Linked DNA regions of Homo sapiens: region 2 is linked to region 1. The links come from fine-mapping of genetic effects on gene expression. A gene starts in region 1. The other region holds a variant in brackets. All regions are shown on one strand. Distances are between the middles of the regions. Region 1 holds the start of MAML1 (mastermind like transcriptional coactivator 1). Region 2 overlaps MAML1 (mastermind like transcriptional coactivator 1).

What was found. PIP is the estimated chance that this variant, and not a neighbour inherited with it, causes the effect.
Region 2: its variant is the best candidate, but not a certain one, in a credible set for the expression of MAML1 in whole blood (INTERVAL, PIP 0.78).

The regions. Positions count from the first base shown.
Region 1 is chr5:179,730,934-179,735,192 of GRCh38, reverse strand. MAML1 (mastermind like transcriptional coactivator 1) reads right to left here and starts at 2,371. Exons shown (of 5, transcript NM_014757.5): 1 at 1,766-2,371. The coding sequence starts at 2,080. CANX (calnexin) reads right to left here. Exons shown (of 15, transcript NM_001746.4): 15 at 3,552-4,259. RefSeq lists silencers at 1,779-1,838, 2,079-2,278 and enhancers at 1,467-1,967, 2,729-2,828.
Region 2 is chr5:179,761,642-179,765,900 of GRCh38, reverse strand. It overlaps MAML1 (mastermind like transcriptional coactivator 1), which reads right to left. Exons shown (of 5, transcript NM_014757.5): 2 at 1-575. Among named protein-coding and RNA genes, the nearest start is that of LTC4S, 30 kb to the left of the region's middle. The variant AT/T (reference allele first, on the strand shown) is at 2,445.

The DNA.
Region 1 (4,259 bases):
ATTTATTTATTTATTATTATCATACTTTAAGTTTTAGGGTACATGTGTACAATGTGCAGGTTAGTTACATACGTATACATGTGCCATGCTGGTGCGCTGCACCCACTAACTCGTCATCTAGCATTAGGTATATCTCCCAATGCTATCCCTTCCCCCGAAATACTGTATTTTCATGTCCACACTCATTTCTTTTTATTCTTAAAAGAATCCTGGGGGCGGCACGGTGCGGTGGCTCATGCCTATAATCTCAGCACTTTCAGAGATCAAGTTGGAAGAAAGGATCACTTGAGCCCAGGAGTTCAAGACCAGCCTAGGCAATATAGTGAGACCCCATCTCTAACAGAAAAAAAACTTTTTTTATTTAGCCAGGCATGGTGATGTGCAGCTGTGGTTGATCCCAGTTACTCAGGAGGCTGAGGCGGGAGGACTGAGGAGGCTGAGGCGGGAGGATTGAGGAGTCTTGAGCCAGGAAGGTTGAGGCTGCAGTGAGACATGACTGTGCCTCTGCACTCCAGCCTGGGCGACAGAGTGAGGGGAGGGCAGGGAAAGAACACGGGGCGATAATAAGCCCAACATGCCCCTAGTTTACAGATGAGAAAAGTGAAGATGAGAAGGCTTGACCAGTTGATACAATAAGCAATGAAATCTGAGTGGTTTTTTTTCTTCTAACCCAGCAATCGAGGCTAGTGTGGAAGAGAATGAGAAAAATAATTCAACCAGAGCAGAGGACCTGTGAGGGACATTAAAAGATAGGTTAGGTCAGACTGGTCCCAAATGCCAAACTAAAGACTTTGAACTTCATCCTTTCAAGCAAGAGAAGGATTTCCAGCATTTCGAGAATAAGGGAGAAAGAAACTAAATGCCTACAGACTGGTTAGTTAGCTAGGGACAGGCACTGCAATAGCCCAGGTGAGAGATAATAAAGGTATGAATTTAAAAATACACATAACAAATTAGATTTTAACATTGGTTTTAAACTAAAATCCCCAAGAAAACCACTGAAAAACCTTGTCTCTTTTGTAAATCTGTTTCAGGAAGAAAAACCTCTAACCAACAAATTTCAGGAACATTTACTGAGAGCCCAAAGGGAGTAATAATTGACCAACAATCTAACATCATCAGAGATTTTAAACAGGCCTGATAAATTAAAACTAGAATTGTCAACAATATTGCAGGAATCTCAAGTTCACAAAGTTCAGGCTACCTAAACAAGGAATACTTATATGCAACTCATTGAACATTTTACTAAGTTTTCCAAAAATTTCTTGATTTTCCATTCAGAGGAGTTTCAGTTGGTCAACCAAAGGCCGACTTATTTCCACATGAAAGCCCTGATCCTGCTCACAGCACAGGATCTTGTAAAGGGCAAGGACCCAATAAACATTTGCAGAATAAATGAGGCCAGGCCTACGGTGCAGGAACTCCCTCCATCACAGGCGACTCGAATGCTAGTCTATTTCGAATAAAGATCTCAACATCCCGGAATCAAGTCTGGAAGAAAAACCCTCCGGTTAGCGTTCGCCAGCCTTCCCAGGTCGGGCCTCCTGCAAGGCCCTCAAGGCGCTGTTTTCCCAAAGTAACGCCACCGTGCCACTTCCCAAAGATGACAACCTCTCAGCTCCCTGCCATGTTACCCTCTCTCCAGCCAGATCCAGGAGTCGCGGACGCCTGGGGAAGTCTCCCAGCGGCCCGATCCGCGTCAGAGGAAGCGTTTTCGGGAGAGGGGGCTGCCGCCACGACAAGCGCCTTCCCGCGCCCTACTCACCGTGGCCGGGCGGCCGTGCTCGGGGCCGTCAGCGGCGTCCAGGCGCGGGGCCGGGGCGGCGGGCGCCGGGGCCGTGGCGGCGGGCGGCTGCCTGTGCTTCCCGGCGCGCTTGGCCTTGGCCTGGATGCAGCGCTGGTGCAGGGCGAAGGTGTGTTGGCGCTCCAGCTCCAGGCGCTCGGGCGACACGGCCTCGTAGCGGGCCTCGCAGGTGCTGTGGTGGCGCCGGCACAGCTCGATGCGCCGGCGAAGGCGCTCCATGACCGCGCTGTGCCGCGGCAGCGCGAACTCCGCCATGGGGCAGGTGGGCAGCACCATGGGCCGCGGGCTGCACGGGCCGGGCCCGGGGCCGGGCCTCTCGGGGCCGGCTGGCACTGCGGGCTTCGCTCCCCGCGGCTACCCCTCTCCGCCTCACGGCCGCGCCATGCCCCCGAGGGCAGCGGAGCGGGCTCGCGCGCGGCGGCGGGTTTTCCTCCTGCCCCGCTCGGCCCGACCCCCAGCCGGCGCTTGCTGCCTACCTCAAGCCTCGGCCTCTCCCCACCGCCCCGGCCCCATTGTTTTCCGCGCTACCGCCGCGGCCGCCATCTTAAAATTGTTTTCGGGCCTCTCGGAAGAAGGCGGGGCCTCGGTAAGAGACCTTGTGCATCACGACTGATGAGCAGGGGCCCTGGCCAATCAGAGAAGGAAGAACCGGCCGCCCGAGGGCGTGGGGACGAGCACGCAAGAGGCGCGCTCGGGCGCCAGAGCGGTATTTAAAAGGAATTCTCAAGCGAAGGGCGGAGGGAAGCCCCTGGGCGGGCCTTAATCCTGGGGGCGGAGCTAAGCGTGACTGACAGGAGCCCGTCCAAGAGGCGGCTATTGGTTTCCTGCACAGCACCCGCTGAAGGCAGGCCCTTCCGGCTACCCCGAGAAAAGGGGAATCTGGCAGGCGAGTGCGGCGCAGCTGGCCAGTCCCTGTCGCCCGCCTGGCAGTACAGAGACCTTTTTTTTAAATTATTTTTTAAATTTCGACTTTGATAAACTCTAAGTAGCCACGCTATTTTAATGTCAGCCGTTTTACTTTGACCTTATTCCTTGTATCCAGCCCCATAATTGGTCAGAATCGTCTAGTGAGCTGGTAGTTTCCTCTTGCAACATTCCGAATCACTGGTAGTTTCCACCTATTTGTAAAAGCCCGAGCAAGTTTCAAAAGTGCAGTATTACTCACTACTTAAAAAAAAAGTCCAGAAGATGTGAGCAAAAGCATGCAAGAGTGCAGCTCCATTAGAGGGAACTGGAAATGCAAAGGACGACGTTTCACCACAACCACCGCCTTCCAGGCTCAAGCGATTCTCCTGCCTCAGCCTCTCCAGTAGCTGGGATTACAGGCATGCGCCACCACGCGCGGCTAATTTTGTATTTTTAGTAGAGACGGGGTGTCTCCATGTCGGTCAGGCTGGTCTCCCACTCCTGACCTCAGGTGATCCGCCCACCTCGGCCTGCCAAAGTACCGCGATTACAGGCGTGAGCCGCCGCGCCGGACCAAAAACAGTCCTTTAGGTAAAACTGAGTTACTCAACAAAACCAAACCAAGACAAATTATGCCCCATTATTAAAACTAATAGGCAAAGGGGAGTAGAGGGACTGGAGCAATCAAACAGTGTTAGTACTAAAACTAGATAGTGTGATGCCAAAGGATATCAGGAACTCTAGATATGGGCACTCTAATTGCTAAAAGGTTAAGCAGGAGGTGGCAGGAGGCTGCACATTGAGATACACCATCAGTAGTTCAAACATTCGTTACTCTAGCTTTTTACTAGGGCTCATGAGGTTTTATTTTAAAATCAAGAGAAAACAACAATCAAATATGTCTTCATACAAACGCAGCAGAAAAATACAAATCCTAATGTTTTAAATGGAGAAAGTGGGCCACCAAGGCAAAAGTGCCATAATGCAGTCCTGCTTTTTTTTTTTTAGCATTCAAACAAATTTTACACCAGAACTAAACTATTTCTTAATAGAAAAAATAGTAACTAGGAGCACTACATTCTGTGTACATACTTTTCTTTAGTATGTAATCTAAAAATTTAATAGCACATAAAAAACTGGGCTAACTTTCAAAAATACCCCTAAAGTATTTAAGTATATGTAAAATAATGGAGTCTGATTCTGAACAAATAATTTTCTAATAAAAATTTCAAAGTTCAATGGTTCCCCTAAGTCTTAAAGAATATTATCTACAAATTATCAGTAGCATTCCCTCCTTTTCTGAGCTGCTGTCCACACTATTATACAACAGAAACTACTGCACCGCAATCACATGGGCAGGAAGAGGCAAGGGCTAGACAGAAAAGACTGCATCAAACTCACGTGGTGAGATAAAAGTCATTATTTCACTGTCCATAATAGTTTCTGCCTAGTAGTGAACTCTCACATAGTGGCCAATTATACGAAGATCAACCCACTAATTGAACATAGTCACACACACACACTGAAGGTTACTATGAAGAAATTCAGT
Region 2 (4,259 bases), 31 kb before region 1:
TTAATGTCCTGTGCCAAGGGGGTTTGTGTGGCAGAGCCAGAAGACTCTGGGTCCTTCTTCTCCTCGAAGTCCTCATTAAACAGGTCCTTCATGTCTTCATCGGGCACCGACCTGTTCAGCTCCTCGATGAGCTCCTTCCACTCCTGCTCGTTAAGGTTGAGGTCTGGCATGAGGTTGCTTTGCGATATGGAGCCGACAGTCCCAGTGATCATGCAAGGCAGGTCTTCGACAGGCTCCTGCTTCAGTTCTTTATTCAGGCTCAGAGGAAATGACTCACTGGGGTTACTGCCTCCATTCAAGTGAAGGCTGGAGTCAGCCAGACGCTTTTTGTTGAGAGAGTCTAGCCCCAGAGAGTGCTTCCCACTGGACTGCAGGGCGTCGGCTCCAGAAGGCTTGTCAGACTGACCGAGGGGGGAGGCTGGAGGCAGTCCATTGGAAGAGATGGCAACTCCCAGAGGGGCCTCCCGGCGAGTCTTCTTATGCCCAGGAAAGAGGTCCCCGTAGCCATTCTGTTGATCGCCATTCTGAGGGGAAGTGGCGCTGTCAAGATTCCTCTTAACTGTATCATGAAGATGCTGAAAAACATTGAAAAGAATGACTTAAGATACATATGAATTTGCTCTGCTATGACAGTAACAAGCCAAGGGCTGATGTCCCTGCAATGCTCGCCAGTGGGTTCTGCTTGCATAGTGTACACTCCCATTTCTGGGGACACACCTCCATTTTCCCTGACGGTCCTATACCTGGCCAGTCAGAACTGATGTCTAGCTAAAGTGCTTCTGCAGTCCTCTTTCTGCAGGAGACAGGCATGAGGCTGCCCACAGCCATCTCGTCTGGCGGTATGCCCAAGAATGGAGCCAACAAAAAAATGCCAGAGAGTACACACACACACACACACACACACATATATATATTATATATATATATATGTTTTGAGATGGAGCCTTGCTCTGCCGCCAGGCTGGGTGGAGTGCGGTGGCACAATCTCAGCTAACTGCAACCTCCGTCTCCTGAGTTCAATCAATTCTCATGCCTCAACCTCCCAAGTAGCTGGGATTACAGATGTGCACCACTGTGCCTGGCTAACTTCCGGTATTTTTTGGTAGGGACGGGGTTTCACCATGTTGGCCAGGCTGGTCACAAACTCCTGGCCTCAAGTGATTCACCCGTCTCAGCCTCCCAAAGTGCTGGGATTACAGGCATGAGCCACTGTGCCCAGCCCCTCACTTTTTTTTTTTTTGAGACAGAGTTTCGCTCTTGTTGCCCAGGCTGGAGTGCAATGGCGTGATCTTGGCTCACAGCAACCTCCGCCTCCAGGGTTCAAGCCATTCTCCTGCCTCAGCCTCCAGAGTAGCTGGGATTACAGGCATGTGCCACCATGCCCAGCTAATTTTGTATTTTTAGTAGAGACGGGGTTTCTCCATGTTGGTCAGACTGGTCTTGAACTCCAGACCTCAGGTGATTTGCCCACCTCAGTCTCCCAAAGGGCTGGGATTACAGGTGTGAGCCACTGCGCCCGGCCGGCCCCTCACTACTTCTTATTGGGACTATTTGCTTGAACATAATCTGTCTGGTGTGACACTGTGACTCTGCTTCCCATCTGCTCCTCGATGGATTCATGCCACTGAAGTTATTAAGATTCTGCCTTGTGCCAGAGACAAGTGCTGTGGGGAACATAAAGACAAAGAAGACAGCTCCTCCTCGGGTGGGCTTTCAGGACATGGGACATACACAGACAGGGCTACAGAGTGAGAGCAGCACACAGTAAGTACCCTGGGAGTTCAGGGGCGGCGATTTCAAGATAAGAACATGTCAGAAGGGATGGGAAGGGGACAGAAGACGGACTCCTTCTACTGCTTCCTCACCTGCATGTGCTGCAGTCAGGACTCAACTCCACTGCTCAGAGGGAGTGCCTATGCTCAGCTTCCAAACACATGCTGCTCCTTTCCTGTGTTTACTTTATTACGTTTTTGTCCTTTATCCCCCACCCCCAGTACCATCCCCCCTTCCCATAAACCCTAAGCATCTATAGCATGTTATTAGAAAATGTTCCAAGTAACAGCCCTCATTATTATCTTTAGACAGGATTCAGAGGAGACGGGGAGCCCCCTGTGCTAGCTTCTCCGGCTGCAGAGAAAGGCCACCTGACTCTCCACACCAACCCCAGGGGCCCAGGTGAAGTGCCCTGGCCTGGGCGTCCTGCCTGGGGCAACTCCACGGGCATCAGTTCTCAACAGCAGATTACCCACTGGACACCAGGGAGGACCATTTTCTCAACCTCTAATCCCCAATTCTAATGTTCCTGTTCTTCTTTTCCCCACATCAAGATTTGCTTATTTCTTAACTGTTAAAGCTGACTACACAGTGCTCTATAAATCCTAGCCAAGTCAGTATTTTTAAAAATCCATATATGGGTAACTAAGTCGGTCTGAAAAAAAAAAAAA[AT/T]CGCAGGAATGCCTGACAAATGGAACTGCAGGGCAGAGGTAAGCAACAATCCTAGGATTCAGAACACCGCCCCACAGCTGCAGGACGTTTGCTTTACTTTCATGCAGGTTCTTCTGCTTTCTCCTGCCACCTAGGGGTGGAAGGGAACCACGCACATAAAATAGACCCTTTATAAAAAGCCATTATTTGAAAAGTTTTCCTTGTGGAAGGTAAATTCATACCCATTTAAATGGTCAGAGGAAATAAAAATTAGTTGCTAACATTTCCTTGATTTTCATCTTTTCTACCATTTTCTTTTGTTCCACAGTGCCAGGTCTGGGCTATCTGTAAACCTGGGAGCTCAGTTTTCCATCTTCCTAGGGGAAAAAGAAAGATGGAAATCTAAAGGGTCAAGGCACTTGATGAGTCAGCTGGTTGTCTCAGATTAGAAACAGAATCTTTCTTTGCCCTAACAATTACAAAAGCTACCACTCCCTCATTCAATATTCACATGCAAACAGCTGCAGACAAGTTCCAATGTAACAACTGAATTTTGTAATACCTATTGCTTTTAACCAAAGGAAACAGTAGGGCATTTTGTCAACTACTCACAAAATTTAACTGGAATAACGTAGACGGGGATAGGAGTGTGTAATGTGGTGGCCCCGGCAGATTTTTAAGCCCTGAGCATTTGCAGGAGTGTCTGATATGCAGGGCAAGGATGAGTGAGCCTTGGAGCCTGAACTCAAAGAATCACAATAGAGATGGGCAAACAGCCTGAACAGATTAAAAGTTATGTAAGAACAGACACAGAAGGTGCTATAAAGCAATACTAGACTGGCTGCCACGTATAAATACAGGAGCCTGCTCCAGCACATCTGGTACTTCTGGGTGCTCAGCTCAAAGGTTCCTGTTGTAACTACTGAAGAGTTTCTGCAGTGTACAGGGTTCCAGGAGGACCCAGTCCTGGGAGATAATATGATCAGATGCTCGTGGTCGGCTGGAGAACCACGTGTGCTCAGCCTTCCACCAAGACACCCCGCTGACCTAAGTCCCATCCTAGCCTGTGCCAGCTCCCTCGCTGGGAGGCCACACTCTCCAGGCGCCACCTGCCATCCTCTGCTCTGGGAGAGGAGCTCCAGGATACCACCACTGCTCTGAATCAAGCTGGAGCTGGCCACACCTTTTGGACTCCTAAGCAGCATCCTGTCAGTCTCTCACCCACCATGCACTAGCCTTATAGGAAGGATAATCCTTTGCCTATCTCCACTTCCTCCTTCTTCAACCACCCACCGCTGCACTCCCAGAATGCTTTGTGGCCAAACTCACCAAAAAATGACAATACCTACATGCTTCCACTCTGAGCTGACAGACACAGCTGCTGAAGACACGCGTGGTTCTTTCATGAGTGCTCCTTACACACTGGCAGCCAATGCCCCTTTCTAGCCCTACTCATCAGGAAATTTGCTTTTCCTCCTGCCTCCTCTTTTTTACCTCTTCTATCATCTTCCTGTCAGCCAAACTCCACCAGTTCCCACCCCTTAGAGCCAGCACCTTGATCTATGGCAATATGGATTACATTCCTGGCCAATCTGGAAATCAATGGGATGTGGGGAAAAGGAAGGGAGGAGTTGAGAACTGCTTTCTCCAAGGCCAGCAATGATCTTCCTACTGTTACACATAGGCCATATTTTCAGTCCTTCCTTTCCCTCTCTCCCTGCACTCCCTTCCTCTCCCTCTTATCATCTGCCACTTAATAATTCATCTTTATTATTATTATTGAGACGGAGTTTCACTCTTGTTGCCCAGGCTGGAGTGCAATGGTGCAATCTCGG